3 linked regions of the Homo sapiens genome follow. The protein of the gene in region 3 purifies or fractionates together with the protein of the main gene of each other region. This does not show direct contact. Each region holds a gene or a part of one and is shown on either strand. Other genes may lie near its edges.

Region 1 (3,752 bases), on a different chromosome or scaffold from region 3:
GGCGAAAGAGCAAGACTCGTCTCAAAAAAGAATCAGTGTTCCATCTATTTGGGCATCTTCCTCTTTCTCTAGGTTTTTTCCCCTCCCTCCTTCCCCTGCCAGTTGAAATGGCCACATTAAGGAAGGAGCTACTGTCAGCAGATGCTGAAAGGCAGGCCTATAGCTGAGTCTTCATTCTAGACCTCATTGAATAGAGCCAGAGGTTTGTTGGACTGGCCTAGTCTTAGGTCTGAATCTACAACTTGTGAGAATATTCAAGAGAGTTTATTTAATTAGTTAGATTCCTACTAACTACTTGTGAGCATTTTTCTTAATGCTCCACGTGTATTTGTTGATATTAGCCAATGTGAATTCCAACTTAAGCATGGTCTTGTATGGTGTTCAGTCTTTCTTCAAGTTGTGTGTGAGGAGCAGGCAGTAGGCTCACCGTCCTTTCCTATTATATTGTCTTCTATTCTTACTGAAAACTTACCAATGTCAGTTAGAAATACAAGCAAGCTTTTGGAAAGATGTTAAATATAGCACAACCACTGAGCTGCATGTGCATATCTTATCAGAAAAGAAAGCATAGATGGCATTTTCTATCTAGAGAGGACAGCTTAAGATACTTAAATGGTGAAATAACTTTCAGATGATTAATTAAGGAACATCTTAATTAAACCAAATAACACTAGAAATGTATATTTTTAGGGATAACAACAAACCAATTAATGTGCTAACTGGAATTGACTATTGGTTGGACAACTTGATATGCAATGTGCCAGAGCTTGTGATGTGTTTTCATGTAAATGGAATTGTACAGGTAAGATACAGTGTGATTTTTCTGATCTCTCAAATGCAAATTGGTACAGAGAGTTCCTCACCAAAGTCTTTACGGCCCTGAAGTACTAAGGTGCATTTTTGCCAGGGAAGATAGCTGTGAATAAACTGAATTTGAGTGTACATTTAAGTTGGTGATAACAGAATTGTAGATGTTATAGAAGTATAATTTTACAGGTAATTTGGAGGAAGTTCATAAATATATGAAAACCTGCATTTGTAGCCATAGAACTCTAATTTTAATGCCAAGCTCTCATTAATAATTAACTGAAAGTGTCTACACAATGGAGGCGTTTCTTCGTTATGCAAATATCTACTCAGTACATGCAAAGTTTTAGGGAAAGGTCTTGTAAAAATTGCATATGGTGGATAGCTTATATAGCAAATTCTTATTGAGCATATTCTGTTTAGAAGACACGTATCCCCATTATAAGTGTTGGGGGAAGCTAGGCGTGTTGGCTTATTCCTGTAATCCCAAGCTACTCAGGAGACTGAGGCAGCAGGATCACTTGAAGCCGAGAGTTCAAGACCAACCTGGGCAACGTAGTGAGACCCTAATTGTAGAAAAACAACGCACACACTTAGTTGGGCATGGTGGTACATGTCTGTAGTCCCAGCTACTTGGGGGCTTGAAGCAGGAGGATCACTTGAGCCCAGGAGTTTGAGGCTGCAGTGAGCTATGATCGTGCCACTGCACTCCAGTATGAGTGACAGAGCAAGACCCTGTCTCAAAAAAATAAAAAAATTGAGAATTTAAACAATAAATAATTGTTGAAGGAAAACAAAGAATAAGCTTGGTTGTTATTCAGAAAGAGATAATCTAATGGGAAATAATATGCAGAGAGAACAGTAGGAGACAGATAAGAATTAGAAGTGTAGCACACAGAAATCTAGATCATCAGAGAAGGGGGTGAGCACTTCCATTCAGGTCTGGAGGAAAGACTTTGTGGAAGAAGGGACATCTTAACTGAGTCCTGAATGATAGCTAGTATCTCAAAAAATAAGAGCTGGATTTTAAAAGTCTAGTGTAAATACATGAAAGGATTGATAATAAATCCAGCTAGGGAACACAGGATTTATGTAGCAGAATAGCTGCAAGTAAGGTTGGAAAAGTCATGGTCAAATGATGGAGATCTTAAATGTTGAGCTAAGGAGTATGGACTTGGTTCAGTTGGTAATCTGGAATCAGAAGGCTTTGCATCTAGGAGGGGAAATTTGTTGTGTTAGAATATTAATTTAGAGATAGCATATAGGACAGAAAAGGAGGACTTAGAGACAAGAAAACCAGAGGCATTGTACCATTTTGCAGATAGTGTAATGTACTTTCCACTAGAGAGGAACTATTAAGAATCAACAATGGTAAGAATAGATAGCATTTATTGAGTGCTTATTTTATCCAAGCACTTTGCTGAATGCTTTAAATGCTTTACCTTATTTGATCTTCTTAGCTACCTCACATGCTGTTATTCCTATTTGATGGAAAGAGAGACTGAGGATCAAGGAGCTCAAGTGAGTTGCCCAGGGTCAACTTAGTAGTGAGTGGCGGTGCCAGTCTTTGTGCCTCTCTCTGGCTGAGGACATGCTTTGAACCGTTATATTCCAACCCAGTGATTCTTAACCTGGTTGTGCATCAGAATCACTTGTGGTCTCTGAAAAAATGCACTTGCTTGGGCCCCCAGTGTTCTAGTATCAGTAGGATGTGTACTTCTGTCTTTTCTGAAAGTCTGCTGTATGATTCTGGTTTGCAGTCTTGATTGAAAACCACTGTTAGACCATCTCCCTAAATGGCAACATTTAGTGAGAGGCTGGGGTGGGAGTGGGGAGCAAGAGAAAAGAGAGAGGCAGATAAAGCGTTAGCAAGGCGGAGGGGAACAGGAGTCAAAGGAGATTCCAGGGTTTAGGGACTAGAATAATGGTGGTGCCATTTAGTGAGATAAGGATGTTGAATTGGTTTAGACAGGGAAGGTAATATGTTTTTGTCACATGTTCAGTTTGAGGAAAGTATAAAAATGTCTAGTGAGCATTTTGAAGTTGCAGCCATTAGAGAAATAAATTGAAGCATCATCTGCCTAGATACTGTCAGATTTCATCACCAGAGGAATCTATTAAAATCAGACATTGGAGCCTCTCCTCATAGGGGTAAAAATAGAAGGGCATTTAGAGAGAGAGAAGGAGAACAAGAATAGCACAGATTAAAATACAGGAAAGGAGCATTTTAAGGAAGGAAATAATCAACATTGGGGACTTCACATGAACAAAGTGGGGTGAAAATCAACCTCAGACGATTGTGTTTGGTCTTACATTCCAGTTGATTTGAAGTTTCCAGTTTTAGAGTACTTCAGAAAATGTGGTAGGAGATGGTTAGGAGAGTGTGCACAGAAGATAAACAAGAAAAATGCAAAGGCACTTTTAAAATAGTGGTAGTAATGTCCATGAAGCCTTTACTCTTATTGCCACCTCCATTCCCCCCTGCTCCATCCCTGTGAAGTAATAAAGTCCATAGATGAAGGGAAGAGAGGTGTCTACTGGAAAATTTCCTAAATGATTCTCTCTCCTTGAGTCACTGACTGTAGTTTCTAGCAAAAAAAAAGGCCAGAAATACATGTGTTTTAAAATCTTGCTGGGTAAAGCCTACCTTCATTTACCATCTTCCCAGTTGAAAACCATTCAAGTGGAATAAAAGTAGTCAGTATGATTTGTTCCATGTTAGAACAGAAATAAGATCATGCCTGAATCTGAGGTTCTAAATCTGGTAGTGATTCTCCATTGAAATTACTCCAATAGTGAACTGCCCTTGCTGATGGGGTGGATGAGATTCCTTTGGGAGGCTGGGGCAGAAAAAAGATTAAAAACCACTGGTTTAAACACTTTCATGCTACATAGGTCTCTGTTTGCAGGACTTCTGCATTTGGTTGCTTTTTAAAAAGAAAGGT
Region 2 (3,752 bases), on a different chromosome or scaffold from region 3:
AAGCAGGGGAATTGCTTGAACCCGGGAGGCGGAGGTTGTGGTGAGCTGAGATCACGCCACTGCACTCCAGCCTGGGTAACAAGAGCGAAACTCCATCTGAAAAAATAAATAAATAAGCAGTTCATAATTTCCTTCTCACTTGAAATGCTGTTATCTTTCATGTGTAAAATACTTGAATTTGGTATAAAGTAATAAAGTGAAATGGATAAGAATAGGGCCTTGTGAGTCATTTGAACTGGATTTTATTTATTATTATTTTTTGGTAGAGGTGGGAGTCTTGCTATGTTGCCCATCTCAAACTCCTGGGCTCAAGTAATCCTCCCGCCTTGGCCTCCCAAAGTGCTAACATTACAGGGGTGAGCCATTGTGCTGGCTGAATATCTGCTGTGTCACTTGGAAGCTGCATGTCCCTAACCAAATTATGTAACTTCTCTAAACTTCAGTTTTCTCAGTTTCTCATGACAGTAAAATAGAAGTAGTAACATCTACCTAAAGGATTGTTATTAATATATAGCTAGTGTTATTAATATACTAGTGCTTTGATTACATTAAGATGTTGATAAGTGGCTATTATTTCTTTTTATTTTCTGTTTTTTCTTTTTCTTTTTTTTTTTTTTTGAGACAGAGTTTTGCTCTTGTAGCCCAGGCTGGAGTGCCAGTGGCATGATCTTGGCTCACTGCAAACTCTACCTCCTGGGTTCAAGCAATTTTCCTGCCTCAGCCTCCTGAGTAGCTGGGATTACAGGCACCTGCCACCACACCCAGCTAATTTTTGTATCTTTAATAGACATGGGGTTTCACTGTGTTGTCCAGGCTGGTCTCGAACTCCTGACCTCAGGTGATCCACTCACCTTGGCCTCCCAAAGTGCTGGGATTACAGGCGTGAGCCACTGCCCCGACCTATTTCTGAACGTTCTAGTCTATTTCATTTATCTAGGAATGAAAGAAGAAAAAGAGAAGAGCGTGGGGTAGCATAAGAGAACTACAGAAGTAAAAGCATAGAGACAGGAAGGGACAAGGTAACTTTTAGGGCAATTTTTATCAAAATGTGGGACAATACCTATTGTGGGTTATAGTATCACTTTAATAACTACAACCAGTATTTTGGCTTAAATGCATAAACATATTGCAATTGAATAGAAAATATGACATATTGGAAGTATTGTTTCAGAAAATTTAAGTTTCAGTATATATATACATATTCTATATATACCCATTTAATTTTGTATAGGTGTACCGTGATAAGATGTAAAATGTATTTATTGTGGTTGTTGGGCAAAAAAGGCTGGAAAAACAGTATTTTAGCACCCAGGAAGTAGTTCATTTGAGCAGAAACATTGTTTAGGCAGGAAAGTTCTATAAATCAAGGTGGACCACAGCATTTGGAAAGCCTCCTCTACTTTTCACATTGTTTGGAGCTTTATTTTCTTCCCTTTGTTAAAAATATACTTTAAAATTATTTGTTTTGTAAAAAATTTAAAATACAAATGAAGGTAAAGTAGCTCTTGACCACCTTCTTCCTCCAATCCGAATCCTGGCCCTCAGAGTTACTACTTTGCCCTTTCCCCTTTCAGACTTACTCCTTCACATTTAAATGCCTATGTGTGCAAATATATAGTTTGCAGCAACTTGGCTTTTTTTTCTCTCAATTTATCTTGATCTTTTCACGCAGATTTATCTTGCTCAAGAGCTGCACAGTATTTCAAAATGCGAATGTACCATAGTATATCTTGTCTTTCCTCTATCGATGAATGACTAGGTTTCCAATTTTTTGTTATTTCCCCCCGTGTCCCCCAATAAAGCTGGATCCCGAGCTTTTTTTGTACACATGTGCAAGTGCCCACGGGGTAGAATCCTAAAAATAGAAGATGTGTGAGTACTTTCTTTTTCATTTTGTAGGCTCTGGGGAACTACTGCAGGGAGGTTGGGATACAAAACATCCCCAGGCCAACAACCGGCCAGCTAGGACAGGTTCTTGCTTTAGCCCCCGACAAGTTTTCTTCCTTTCATAATGGACGCTGACTTTGTTTTTTTTACCTCGTAGATGCAACAGTTCCCAGCACCAAACCCAGATATACAACCATTCAGCTACCAAGAGCTACGCCTGATAAATTAGAGGGGAAAAAAAAAATCTCCAGTCCCTTCACGTCGTGACGCTTGCTTCCGGGAAGCGGGCCGGAAGCCACTCCTCGAGTCTGCGTCAAACCCGACTTCAGGGGCCGTCGTAAAAGTGTCGTCCCTGTCTCTCCGACCGGCCACAGGTTTCCGCTTGCCTCTGGCCGGGGGTCGGCAACTGCAGGCGTCAGTTTCCCTCAAGATGGCGGACGAGGAGGCTGGAGGTACTGAGAGGATGGAAATCAGCGCGGAGTTACCCCAGACCCCTCAGCGTCTGGCATCTGTAAGTCCCTATAGGCAAGTCTCTTTTGTCCTCCCCCCGGTCCCTCCCTACTGCGCTTAGGAGGATGTGGGGCTTCACCCCTTATGGCGGCTCTGGGGAGGGGGAGTTATCTGGATTGATCTGGAAGGAAGCCACCGAATAAAAAGTTAGTCGCAACCCACATTTCTGCCAGCCAAGTCTACGGAATATAATGACTTTGTTATGTATTATTCTTGATGATCTCAAGTGTGCATGTCTCTATTCTGAAGTAGAAAGAACCAGTGATGTTATTAGACGGTTTGATGTGGGGGCCGAGGCGGGGTTGGAGCAAGAGCCATTTTCGTATAGAAGCAGTACTAACCCTTTACTCTTGATGATGGGAACGCAGCACCTGGTATTTTATTGCATAGCCTGCTGGCCGGGACCTGATATTGGTAGGTAGTGCTGCTACTGTCAAGTCATGTCTAGATGTGAGGTGTAGTAATTGTCCTTGCGTATAGCATCTTGGGAACCCCAGGCCTAACCCTCAGTGGAGAAACCCATCATCTGTCGCTACTTTTTAAAGGTGAAGAAAGGACTCCCAAACATTTCAAGCCAGAGCAATACCATTAATTGATGTCGGAATCTATACTTTGCTCTTGCATTTTGAAAGAATGGGAAGGCACAGATAGTGAACAAATTTGAGTCACTAGCTACAGGGAGAAAGCTGCCGAGGAAGATAAGAGTAGGGGGCAATGTTAGGGAATGTTCTGGATGCCCAGGGCATCTAGTGTGGAGATATGTAGAAAATATTCAAATATCTGTCACCGCATGATGTTTTATTAGTTTGTCTTTCTAAATAGCAGCATTTAGAGATTTGGGATATACACATTTTTTCTGAAGTTTCTTTGGCTTGTAGTTTAATAAAAACATTATTTTATTTTATTTATTTTTTGAGGCAGAGTTTTGCTCTTGTTGCCCAGGCTGAAGTGCAGTGGTGTAATCTCGGCTCACTGCAACCTTCCGAGTTCAGGAATTGAACTGCAAATTCCCGAGTTCAGGAATTCTCCTGCCTCAGCCTCTTGAGTAGCTGGGATTACAGGTGCCTGCCACCATGCTTGCCTAATTTTTTTTATTTTTATTTTTATTAGAGACGGGGTTTCACCATGTTGGCCAGGCTGATCTCGAACTCCTGACCTCAGGTGATCCACCTGCCTCGGCATCCCAAAGTGCTGGGATTACAGATTAAAAGCATTCTTGAAGGTTTTTTGTTTTTTTTTTTAACCCTGCATACAATTGAACATTGTTTTATGCGAGAACAGAGGGAACTACAGAGGGAGCTACGGCATGAGTCAACTCCAGGGACTGAAGAGACTGTCTAGGAGGTAGGAACAAG
Region 3 (3,752 bases):
AGCTCCTCAAACCACCATTCAGTGAGTCTGGAATGAGAAAGGACTGGGGAAGTTCCTGGCTAGGAAAGTGCCATCTTCCTTAAAACTAGTACTACATCACCCCAAGCCCCCATCACAACTGGGACTCGGGCCGAGTTGTGTCTTACTTAATCCCCCAGTGAAATCACAGCTTAACATTGCTGCATGGCAGCCTGATGCACCAGCCCTTCCAGTCAAAACACCAATGATCCAGAACATTTCTCTGCCAACAGACAAATTTGGCTTCTGCCAGGGACTGATTTTGGGATGACCTCAGGATGGGTCTGGTGAGGTGGCCTGTGAAAGCAGAATGGGGATGTCACCTTAGGGAAGACACTGCCAAGTGACAAAGAGCCTACAAGGGAAAACAAAGAACTTTGTTGGGGCAATGCTAGCCCAAGCCTCCTGTGGACTCACACCCTTCCAGGTATGATAAGCTCTCCAGTCATTTTGGTGTTTCATGTGCAAGAGCCCATGGTGACCTGATACCTAAAGATTCATCCAAATATGTTAAGATGAGAAAAAATAGAAGCTGTCAACATCAAAGGAGGACTGAGTTGGCAAATAACCCCTTATATCCTTAATCCTTTAAATATCTCTAATGGAAAAGCTGTTGGAGTTCTTGGTTTTTACCCTGGAGAGTAAGACTGGAAAGGGGAAAGAGAACCGAGGTTCATTTTTTTTCTCTAAGAGGATCAGAGTCCTGCTATTTGAGGCCTGAGAAAGAGTTATGAGCAGAGAAAGAAGATGAAGAGGCTGCCCCATAATTCCTATGGATACAGTGCATACTCATCCTCTTTCACCACAGATGCTGGCAAAATCCTAAAGGAAGAAAGCATGTCTTTTAGCCCAGTTTACAGAGAACAAGGGCACTGTCGTGCATGGTGCATGGGAGGACATTGAGGATCTGTGTCTTGACAAGGATCTCAAACAAGCCTTTGATTATGATTACACAGCCTCCTGGGCCACTGTTGCCCCTAGTCTGGATTACTGCAATAGCCTCCTATCTGGTCTCTGCTTCTACCAAGCCCCCCACCTGCAGTCTAATTCTCAACACAGTAGCTGGAGGAATCCTTTTAAAAGTAAGTCAGATCACATCATTCTTCTGCTCAATATCCTTCAATAATATGCAAGTTCACTCTTTTCCATGGCCTACAGGCCCTCTATATTCTTCCTCCCATTATCTCTCTGAGCTGTATGTACTTCTTCTCTGCCTGCTCTCAGCTCCAGCTGATTCAAACACACTAGGCATGTTCCCACCACCGGGCTTCCACACTTGCTCTTCCTCCAGCCAGAGATGCCCCTTCTCAATGCTGCCAGTTCCTATCTCGCCATAGTTTCTATTTTTCTACAGTATTTATTACCTACAAACATATTACATATAATTACTTCTTTCTTATGCTTGTCTATCTGCTTCTGCTAGAAGGTTAAGCCCTAATTTTGTTCATAGACGTATCTCAAGTGCCTGGAACAGTGCCTGGGAGTTAGTAGACACTTGATTTATTTATTGAATAAATCAATGGCTTTTATTGGCTCCTTGTTAGCTCCACCTTTTGAGCTTAATTCAAAAGGTACCAGTTGCCTTTGAGAAACAGAGTGGCCAAAAGTTTTAGAGCACAGAGTTTAGGGTCAGACAGACCTTGCTGCAAATTCCAGCTCTACCACTCACTAGGCTGGATGATCTTGAGCAATTACATAATCTCTCTGTGCCTCATTTTCCTCGGTTATAAAATGGGATTAATAGTGGTACCTACTCATAGGGCAGCCACGGAAGTCAATGAATTAATGCATACAGAGCACTTGAAGCAGTGCCTGGTATATGACAACACTCAACAAATATTAGTTATTATAAGTCTGATCAGTTACTTCCCTGCTTCAAACTCTCTAGTGGTTCTTAGGATCAAGGCTAAAATCATAAAGAGCATGATATCTCCAACCTCACCTCTCCAGCCCCCGAACCTTCCCACTTCATCTATGCTCCCCTCCAGGCCGCTGTGCTCCAGTCACTCCAATCTTTTCCAGGCCCTCAATCTCCCCAAGCTTGTCCCTGCCCTAGAATCTCTGCACATGTTGTTTCCTCTAGCTGGAATGCTCTAATCTAAGGATTGGCAAACTTTTTCTAAAGGGCCTGGTAGTAAATATTTTTGACTTTGTGAGCCATATGGTCTCTGTCACAACTACTCAATTCTGCCATTGTGGCATAAAAACAGCAATAAACAATGCATGAACAAATAGGGGTTGCTGTGCCCCAATAAAATTTTATTTAGGAAAGGAGGTGTTGGGCCAGATTTGACCTATGGGCAGTAGTTTGCCATCCCCTGCTCTAGTCCCCCCTCTTCACCCAGCCAACCCCAATCATCCTATAACGCTTGGCCTAAATGTCACATCCTCTGAGAAGCCTCCCTTATTGTCCATGACTAGGCTCTAAGTTCTCCAGTTACATATTCTTACATCACCCTCTGGAGCCCTCATTACAATCTTAAATTATCTCATTATTTAATTAATTTGTTCAATTGTTCATTATTCAATTACTTCCTCTTCCAGGCTATAAGCTGCATAACTAGGACTATGTCTATTTTATCTCTGTGGTACCCTCAGAGGTACTAAAGAAGGTACCACTCCACATGAAAAAGAGGTTGGCTGGCCAGGCATGGTGGCTCAAGCCTGTAATCCCAGCACTTTGGGAGGACAAGGTGGGTGGATCACTTGAGGTTAGGAGTTCAAGACCAGCCTGGCCAACATAGTGAAACCCTATCTCTATCAAAAATACAAAAAATTAGCTGGGCGTGGTGGTGCACACCTGTAATCCCTGTTGCTCGGAAGGCTGAGGCAGGAGAATAGCTTGAACCCAGGAGGTGGAGGTTGCAGTGAGCCGAGATCGCGCCACTGCACTCCAGGCTGGGTGACCGAGTGAGACTCTGACTCAGACAAAAAAAGAAAAAGAAGTTGGCTCTGGCCTCTAAGACTGTATCTTACTACAAAAGATAACAAGACTAGATTAAAAATAGTCTGTGCTCTGGGAGAGAAGTAAAGATGTTGATGCTATTTTCTTAGGGCTTAGGGAAGGGGGATTTATTTTTGGAGCTGTTAAAAGTCTGACTTATGGACGAAGAAATACAGTACCTGATGGACATAATATTCAAGATCAAAGAGCGCAGCAATCTTCTCTTCCAAACTGGAGCTGGAACTATTGAACTTGTTGATCAGCCGTACCATGATCTGCATGTCAGTCTCAATGACAACATTCAGCTCATCAAAGTCTTTCTTCAGTTCCTCAATGGGGCGGAAGAGCCGCTTTACCTCAGCCTGCCTTGCCTAAGGAGAGCAGCAAAGAGGTGATTAAATTGGTTGGAGACATCTGCCCAAGATGTCTGTGGTCTACCATGGATGCCCATCCTCAAAAAACTGCTGCTCCAAGACTCACAGTCTTCTCTCATCTATGCTATCAAAAATACTAATACTTTCTAAGATGCCCAGAGAAGACAGCCCTCAAAGTCTGCCTATATAGGCCTCAGCTCTAAAAACACACTCAAGATGTTCCAAGATTCGCTTATTCAAGTCCGATTTCCAATATTCAGGAAGAATAGAAAGGCTTTTTGTCACAACCACTGAGTTAAGGGGAAGTAATGCAAGTTCATCTTCAACCTCAAACCACATATGAAACAGCTGAGACCTAAGGTAGAATAACCCACACCCTACTTCTCCACTTCTCACAATCATAGACTATCTTGGCC

What was found.
Region 1: the proteins of SIL1 (region 3) and EDRF1 purify together in Homo sapiens (affinity purification with mass spectrometry; 2 studies listed by BioGRID and IntAct, with this or other methods). This does not show direct contact.
Region 2: the proteins of SIL1 (region 3) and UBR1 purify together in Homo sapiens (affinity purification with mass spectrometry; 3 studies listed by BioGRID and IntAct, with this or other methods). This does not show direct contact.

Annotation. Positions count from the first base shown.
Region 1 is NC_000010.11:125,729,598-125,733,349, forward strand, and holds part of EDRF1 (erythroid differentiation-related factor 1), read left to right. Parts: intron 1-674; exon of another isoform or gene 675-690; coding exon 691-802; intron 803-2,267; coding exon of another isoform or gene 2,268-2,328; intron 2,329-3,752. UniProt on the Homo sapiens protein: Transcription factor involved in erythroid differentiation. Involved in transcriptional activation of the globin gene.
Region 2 is NC_000015.10:43,104,588-43,108,339, reverse strand, and holds the start of UBR1 (E3 ubiquitin-protein ligase UBR1), read left to right. Parts: upstream 1-2,301; 5' UTR 2,302-2,317; coding exon 2,318-2,398; intron 2,399-3,752. UniProt on the Homo sapiens protein: E3 ubiquitin-protein ligase which is a component of the N-end rule pathway. Recognizes and binds proteins bearing specific N-terminal residues that are destabilizing according to the N-end rule, leading to their ubiquitination and subsequent degradation.
Region 3 is NC_000005.10:139,023,660-139,027,411, forward strand, and holds part of SIL1 (nucleotide exchange factor SIL1 precursor), read right to left. Parts: intron 3,334-3,752; coding exon 3,142-3,333; intron 1-3,141.